2 separate regions of the Homo sapiens genome follow, and region 2 is linked to region 1. Evidence: fine-mapped expression QTL. Tissue or cell type: lung. Region 1 holds a variant in brackets; the other region holds the start of a gene. All regions are shown on one strand. Distances are from middle to middle. Region 1 overlaps CYRIA (CYFIP related Rac1 interactor A). Region 2 holds the start of CYRIA (CYFIP related Rac1 interactor A).

Region 1 (4,387 bases):
ACATTTCCACATTCCTGGTCACTCCTGCTTACCTGCCTGTCTCTCCTCCTAGGAGGTGAAGACCCCCTGGATGGGAACTGGAACTTACTTGTGATTGAATCCACAGCAAGCCACCCAGGGAATGTGTGTGGCTGAATGCATGAAAGAATGAGTGAAGAATGATAGTGTGAAGGCCACAATCAGAATCCAAGTTCTTCCAGCCTGAGGTCCTTCCAGGCAACTACTTAGAAAGAAAGAGGGAAGGAAAGGAGGGCATGTGGATGGGAGGGGGGAAAAGGGTGAGAGGATAGGAAGAAGGAAGGAAGGAAGGAAATAAGGAAGAAAGAGAAAAGGAGGAAAAAAGAGGGTGGGATGAAGGGAGGGGAGGAATAAAAATGGTTCCACCATGGTGACACTCATTTTAATAAAGATATAGCTAAAGATCTCATGCTATGCTTGAAAGTTAAAAGAAAGATAATTTGAGTCAACAAGAAAAGTGAAATATGTCCTCAATGATGCACAAATTAACTTCTAAAAAAGACAGCAGGATTTGAGAAGAGCCTGCCACCCACTGCTAGGATGTGATGGCCAGAGACTTACTTTCATGATGACAAGCCTGCAGAACCATCTCTGCTCTGGCCTCTGAAGCAGCCAATCAGCTGCAGGAGGCTGAGCTGCGTGAGAAGTCCAACTTCAAGGATAGATGCTGCAAAATAGCAATGTCTCCCCACCAAGCGGAGGTGGATGCTCATTTTATGGAACTTCTTGATATGGTCTGACTCTGTCCCCACCCAAAATCTCATCTGGAATTGTAGGTCCCATAATCCCGACATGTCGTGGGAGGGACCTGGTGGGAGGTAATTGAATCATGGTGGCACTTCCCCCCCATACTGTTCTCATGGTAGTGAATGTGTCTCATGAGATCTGATGGTTTTATAAATGGGAGTTCCCCCGCACAAGCTTTCTTGCCTGCTACCGTGTAAGATGTGACTTTGCTCCTCATTCGTCTTCCTCCTTGACTGTGAGGCCTCCACAGCCATGTGGAACTGTGAGTCAATTAAACCTCTTTCCTTTGTAAATTACCCAGTCTTGGGTATGTCTTTCTAGCAGCGTGAGAATGAACTAGTACACTCCTTTAAGTCAAAATTCCAGCTGAAGGAATTTCGAAGAATGCTGAAGGCTGGGAGACTTCCATGCATTTTCAGGAGTGCATTTTCAGGTATTTACTGCCTCCACCTCTGGGCAGGAGAGCCAGCGGGTAGTGCTGTCCCAGGGGAGGACATGATTCTCTTCAGTCCCTTTTCATAATGCATACCTGAGCAGACACAGAGGACCCTGACACTGAAATCCCAAGGACACTCATTCCCCTGCTTTCAAAAGGCCTTCATCTAAATCAAATTCTCATGATCCGATAACTACACTAACAGCAGCCATTCGCTGAGTGTCAGCCCTGCACTCGATGCTATGCTAAGCGCTACATGCAAATGCCCTCATTTAATTCTCACAATTACCCTCCAGTAGGTTAGTTTGAAGAGTTACTATATTGTATATTTCTGCTAAATTGGAGAGCTTTTCTCTGGGCAAATGCAAGAGCTTGCAGTTAAGTACCTTATCCACTAAGGGGCATTATCATCTCACATTAAAAATACCAGACCTGGTCAGGTAGGTACCGAACACAAATGCAGAAATTTGTGAAAAAAGGACAAAGCAGAAGTATCAAGTTCAACATCCTGAATATTTTCTAAACGTGATTCCACTCATTTGTAAAAAGTGTTTAAACTCACAGTTGTAGTAGCCAACGCTTACTTAATGTAGTAACTCAATTGCTGCTTCAAGGTCATTTCAAAAGCATCTGTCTTGACCACTTTGCCAGAAAACGGGGCTATGACATTTGAGAAGGAAACGTGAATAGACTTAGCCATTTGGCTTAGTAATTATCCTCTCCAGCCCCTTCAACTAGTTTCTTAAGTCACGTTTTCCACTGAGGAAAACATCTGTGTTGTGGCTGAATCAACTTCACTCAAGTTAAGGGTAAAAAGAAAGGTTGGAATCCTACCACAAGCTTATCAGAATGAGTTTCTATAACTCATTTAAACAAAACCCCCACTTAAAATTATATTTTGAGTCAGAAAATACTCTGGAAATGGAAATGCACATAGTTGAAGACCCTCAATTCATGATCTGTACCCCCGAGCCTGCTTTTATGGACAGATGGGAGATGGACAAAGGTACAAGTTGCTCCCATGGAGGATGTCCCTGCAG[G/A]AAATCTGCAATCCACAAGAGAAGGCAGCAAAGTCCTCATGGAACTTCCCTGTTTAGATTGATAAGCCAAGACCACAATTAAACCAAACAAACAAACGCACAAAGTTTATCTCTGAATTTCTGTGTAAGCCCAGCCTGGCTCCTGATGACTCAGCGATGCTCTATCCTGATTTAAACTTTCCCCTGTCGTCGGGGTTCCCAGGCTGCTGTCTGTGGCCACACAGTCCTCTACATTCGAACGCTTTGCCTTTCACCCTCTGGAGAGCCTGCAAGCCTCCCAGACAGATCAAGCACTGTTTGGGCTATTTCTTCATTCCACTTGAAGACAGCAAATTGTGATTCCAACATGAGGTCTGAGTTGCTCCCCAGCTCATATCATCTGACAACCCAGCTCAGCTACACAAAATAATCTCAGGTCCTCTGGTACTCAGTGGAAGATGGAAAATACACTGAGACGGAGCGTAGAGACACCCGGTCACCTGCCACGTAGCAGCTGTATGGCCTTGGCAAGGTGCCACATCCCTCTCCACAGCTGCCTTTTCTTGAATGCCTACTGGATGCCAAGCTCTTTGCTGGCTCTTACTCATCTTCAAAATCTCTCTGCAGAGTAGTGCCTTTAGATAAGGAAACTGCGGCACAGCAAGATTCTGGAACTCATGAAGACCATTCCCTTCTGTGTGACTCCATTAGATGGACTGGATCAGGCTCCAAACAGGAGCCAGTAGTTCTTGTCCATAAAGGAGCTCTGGCAATGAATTCTGCATAAATTGCTTCTAACCATGAAATACAAAATGGCTTATTGTTTTTTCTTTGAGTTTTCTAGGCTCTTACTGCTCTGAGCATGGTCTGGAGACTGGCACCCACCTGGGAGCTTATTACAAATGCAGTCTCTCAAGCCCCACCTCAGAACTGCTGAACGCAAGTCTATGTTTTAATCGAATCCTCAGTGTCCTCAAGTTTGAGAACCACTGCACTTGACTAAAGATCTGAAGTCCCAGTGTCATATCCCCTTCTCTTCTGCCTCCCCCAAGTAACCAGTGGTCGTTTTAGGATTGGTCCCGAAATCCGGAGTTCCTCTCCTACTGGTTTAGTATGCATTTGGTTTTACAAGTGGGCCCCTTGATTAGTTCCACTTGCACAAATGAAAGTTTACATTGTAACCAGGGATAGGACCCACTGAGCCCCCACTGCAGGCTGGGCTTTGTACTAAGTGCTTCACATACAATATCTCAGTCCTTGAGCTGGACTAGATGGCTATGAAGTCTTCACTCTTTCTACAACCAACACTGCCTCCACTCTCCCAGCCTGTTTCTTCACCTGCAAATGAGATCACACAGAGGTAGACCCAATGATCCCTCAGATCCCTCCAAAAATAAGATTTATGAAATTTCCAAGGTTCAACTCTCCACAAAAATATCTGTTATAATAGAAAATCTAGATCGCTAAATGCAATGCAAAAGCAGAGAACAGTCAACCTACCTATTGCAGCTATTACTGAACGTTACTGTAACATTCGGTGGCTCAGTGACGAGGCAGCTGGCCTTTCTGAACCGATACCAGCAGCTCTACCACTGGGATATCCCTGGTGCAAACTGGGAGGTGCAGACAGGACACAGGGCAGGCGCCCTCCACAGGCCCAGGGTTGGCATGGCGACGCCTGGGACCATCTTCACTCCATTCTTCTCTTCTGTTTCGCTCGATTATCGCTGTGTGAGATCCTGCCCCAGAAGGACAGAGCAATCCTGAGGGTGAGGCCTGATGTCGGGGGAGAACAAGCCAGTCTTTGTCAGGTCCCTCAAGGGGACGAGGCCAGCCTGCCTCAGGCTGCACACAGAAGAGGCCTGTGCTCACTTGGCCGTAGAGTGGTGGCCTGCTCTGTCCTTCACGGTGGGAACCCGCCACTTGAACATTCTACATCTCCCTCCTCCTGACTCCAGGGCTGGGCAAAGTGGAGGGATCTGCTCCTGGGGCCTGCAGGCATTTGCACTGAAAAGGCTTCAAGTAGAACTTACTGCTCACACTAGCACCAAAAACTCTTTGTTGAACAATTCCTCTCTCCCCTTGGCTGGTTTCCCACTATCCCATTCACAATGACATCCTTCCCTACGTCACCCTTTGTCAACTCTCCAGCCTTCCCTGGCTCCCC
Region 2 (4,387 bases), 52 kb after region 1:
TTGGTATCTATTTTTAGCACTGAGGCAGTATGCGCCCACTATGTGCCCAAGCCCGTGATGCTGCTGCTGCCCCCTTCCCAGAGCCAGAGCCCAGAGGCAGGAGGGAATGTGGGCAGGTCTGTTTCCACCTCGCTTTCCCACTCTCCCCTCACAGGAACCCAGGGCCAGCAGGAGGTGAAGTTCTGCCAGCCCCCAGCCTGGGCCCAGCGCCCATGTTTATGACTGTTTATTTCAGAGCAAGTAGAAAGGAGAAATTAGAGCCATGAAAGACAGGACAACGGACCAATAAAAACCAGCTCCCAGAAGAGTCAGAAGGAGGAAGACAGGCAAAACTGTCACCATAGCAACACAAGACAGTCAGAAGCACGCAGGAAAAACAGCCCCTGCTCTGCCTCCTGTCTCCACTGCAAAGCAAGCCCTCGAACCCCAACCAGAGATCAGTGAAAGCCGACAATGATCCACCCAAAGAACTCTGGTACCCAAGCCCAGACCTGGCTAGCAGCCACTCTCCTCCTGCTGCCCCAGCACAAGTCCCAGCCTTCCAGGGTCCCAGATCAGCATTCTGTGCCCTGGGGACTCGACACTGTGCAGATGGCCCAGGTCCCATCCAGAGGAGATAGTGACTGGTGACAGAGAGGAAAGTTTCTAACAGGGAGAAAAGGAGGGTCACAGAGCTTCAGGGGAGATCAGGGCCCTAAACTCCAGCCCCATGACCCTGTCTTGGGTTCCCTGGGGAGCAGGCGGGTAAACAAGGGTGTGGGAGAGGACATCAGGCCCTGGACACAGAAAGATTGCTCCATCAGTTCTGGACCTGGCACCCCCAAAACAGTGGCTGGGGGAATTCTGGGGATGCGTGGGGAAATAGCTTTGGAGGCCTTAAATGACAAAGATCTTGGCCCTGGTCTCTGGGGACACTGGCTAGCGAGTAGGAGCAGCTTGGAGGAGGACCCAGGGACGGGCTGGCCCATTTTGACAGAGAATGTCTCCTGGCAGACAAGACAGGTGTCTCCACCAAAAAGCATGGCTGGCCTGGGACCAGCATTTTGGGAAGTGGGTCAAATTGTTCCCAAAGCTCAGTATTGGAAAAGTGCCTTTTGCCAAACTGGGGTTCTGGGTTCTGGGGGAGGAGAGAGGGTGACGGCAAGGTGTGCTGGGTCCTAGGCACAGCAGCTTTCTGGCTGGCTAAGAACGTCTGTGGCAGGTGGCAACAGAAGGGTCCAGGTGTGCAGGGGCTGGGGAGGGGGCCATCCCTCCCTTTGGGGCTGTAGAGAGTACCCAGGACCCCGGGGCCTCGGGTGGTGGGAAGGGGAGTGTTAGGGGTCCCCTGCAAGAATGGAGCTTATGATACCTGGGGTGGGGGGTAAGTGAGTGAGGGACGAGGGAGGGTGGTCTGGGAAAGGAACACAATCAGGAGGCAGCCCTCTCAGAAAGAGGGCAACGGGGCACAAAGCCGGACCTCTGTCCGGCGATCGCTAGAGAAGGGCTCCCGGACGGTGTCCTCCGCTCTCCCTCCCTCCCAAAGGCTGCAGGGGCGTCCGGGAGGAGAAGGATGGCAGGGAGGCGCCCGCCCCGCCTCGCGGTGCCCCGCGGTGCCCCGTGCAGGCCGAGCCCCGCGCCCGCAGACCCCCGCCCGCGCCCCTGCCGCGCCCCCAGCCGCGCCGCGCTCACCGAGTCGCCGCCGCCCTGCTCTGCCGCCCGCTCCGCCGCCGCCGAGTACGCCTCTCCCGCGGCCGCCGCAGCCTGCGAGACGGCCTCGGAGCCCCGCCCCGCCCCTCCCCGTCCCTCCCCGCCCCGCCCCGCCCCCAGCCCGGCTCGCGGCAGCCGCCCCGCCCCGGCCCCGGGGGATCCCCACCCGCGCTGTCACCGGCCGCGTCCTCACCCTAGCCTGGACAACCCCATCTCTTTGCCCGGCTCTGCTCTCTGCTCCCAGGAGCTGGTGCGGACCCGCCCCAGCACGGTCGCCCCTGCCCCTTCTCAGCCTTGGCCACTTGGCCTTGCCTTCCCAGAGGAAGCCCGAACCAGACCTTTCTGTTTCTGCACACCAAATTCCTCCACACCCACGGTTGCCCTCCAAGAAAAAGAAATCCCCGCAATCTCTAGACGCATATTCACCTTCAAATTAATGCCCAGCCAAATCATCCCAATCCCTAGGCACACTCCAAATTACTTGAGATTCTGAACCCAGTCTCGCTCCCAGTCCCTTTCTGCCCACCCTATTAACAGATCTCCAGCCTTGGGGCCCGCAGTTATCCGATAGGACCACTGTAAAGTCTTCCCAAAGGCTCAATCCAAAACATGTAATTAACCTTAAAGAGTAAGTCTGCAAAAACACTTAAAAAATTCTATGATGCAAAAAGAAAGTAGTGGGTTACAGCGTCATTGACGTGATCATTGTTCTAAAACATCTGCCATGGAGGCTTTTTGCATTAGAGAGAGGGAGATTCAGGAAACCGGAGAGGACTCAGCAGTGCCAAACAGGTTGTGAGTCAGAGCTCCTGTTGAGGGGAGGGAGAGCTCCTGGGGACCCCGGCTTCGGGTGCTTCCTTTCCCAGTCCATCAGCCAGAACATCATGAAACATGTGTTAAATCCCCATAGTGTGCCAAGGTACGTGCCCGAAGCTGCATGGGTTGGGGCCCTGTGTGGGCTGGGATCAGAGGAGGCGGGAAGCATCAGGAGAAGGTGTTCAGGCCCCTCTCCTTTCTGAGATCCAGGGTGTTTCCCCTGGGAGGACTTGTTGCCCAAGCTTCCTTTGCACTCTGAAAGGCTCTCCTGAACTGCCCACAGAGGCTCTTGGTCTGTTTTTTGGCAAAAATTCACAGAGGGCAGGAAGGCACTGTCTAGTTAGAGTGAAATATTTTCCCACTTGGAAGGGGTCCTTAGGACCAGAAGAAACACTTTCCCGTTCTCTTTTTGAGTTTTCCCCATGCCCTAGACCAGCCTCTGTTGTCAATTCCTGCAAAGGTGTTTTTTTTGTTTTTGTTTTTTGAGACAGAGTCTCACTCTGTAGCTCAGGCTGGAGTGGAGTGGTGTGATCTCGGCTCACTGCAACCTCCATCCCCCGGGGTTCAAGCAATTCTCCTGCCTCAGCCTCCAGAGTAGCTGGGACTACAGGCGCCTGCCACCACATCCGGCTAATTTTTGTATTTTTAGTAGAGACGGGGTTTCACCATCTTGGTCAGGCTAGTCTTGAACTCTTGACCTCGTGATCCACCCACTTTGGCCTCCCAAAGTGCTGGGATTACAAGCGTGAACCACCGCAGCCGTCTGGCAAAGGTGTTTTATCTGTGAGTGGCTCTATGAGAAAAGCCTTCTTGCCATGAGGTAAACCATGTCTACTACACACACACACACACACACACACACACACACACACACATACACACACCCCTAAAATTTTCTGGCTTAATCTGTCCACCTTGAGTTTGGCCAGGTTTTGGGAAGAGTGAGGACTAATCAGCCACAAACACCATTCATCCCCATAAAACACTATCATTTCAGACCATGAGAGGACTTTTCACTTTACACCCATCTGTCTCTACTAATACAGCTCAAGTTTGTGAGTAGACTATTTGATGCATGAGATTTCACTTCCACACACTTAGAGATGGCTTCTGTTTCAATAATCGAGGGATACCTGCATGGTATTGCCCAGCCCATTATGAAATAATAGGGTTTTCTAATGATCAGTGTGGAATTTAATAATTGAATGTTTCCTAAGACAAAATTACCAGATGAAAGTCTTTTAACTTTATCAGTAATACTAATAACAAGTTTAAAGGTTATTATCATAAAGATTATAGTGAAATTAAACTGCCATTTAGGAGGCAGGTAAGTTGAGACTGAATTTCAGATGGTTGTCACTCACAATATGTGTGCTAAGATGAACCTTAATATCTTAATTAAAGTAAATGTATACTGAGCTGTGCTAGTTTCAAGGACATCTTTTTCATGTATTTCTTTTTTAAAAGAGATTGATGAAGCATGGACAAAGTGCCAGGCACTGTGCTAAGTAATGGAATAAGGACACAGTTCCCTGGTCTTGAGGAGGACACAGGCAGGCTGCCTGTGGAAAAAGACTAACAGAGATATTTGCTGTGTGGACCCAGGAAAAGAAAGAATTCTTTGTGATTGGGGGAAACTGAGAGCAGATTCTTGAAAAGCGCATTTTTAAGCTAAAATATGACGTGGGAAGTTAGACTTCAATAGGCAGGAAATGCGGACAAAGACACTCCAAGTAGAGAGACAAAGTGGAGGCCTGGGTGAAAAGTGGTCCGGGGTGGCCAGCGTACCAGGGGGATCCCACAACGTGGGACAGAGAGTGGAGAGCTAGAACAACAGCCTGAGAATCTGCACTTGATCCTGGGAGCTCCTGGGGACTGAGTGGCC

The links. PIP is the estimated chance that this variant, and not a neighbour inherited with it, causes the effect.
Region 2: CYRIA starts here. The variant in region 1 is fine-mapped to the expression of CYRIA in lung (TOPMed, PIP above 0.99).

The regions. Positions count from the first base shown.
Region 1 is chr2:16,612,044-16,616,430 of GRCh38, forward strand. All of the region lies in intron 2 of CYRIA (CYFIP related Rac1 interactor A), which reads right to left. Among named protein-coding and RNA genes, the nearest start is that of CYRIA, 52 kb to the right of the region's middle. The variant G/A (reference allele first, on the strand shown) is at 2,242.
Region 2 is chr2:16,664,112-16,668,498 of GRCh38, forward strand. CYRIA (CYFIP related Rac1 interactor A) reads right to left here and starts at 1,723. Exons shown (of 12, transcript NM_030797.4): 1 at 1,669-1,723. RefSeq lists silencers at 1,640-1,689, 1,760-1,929.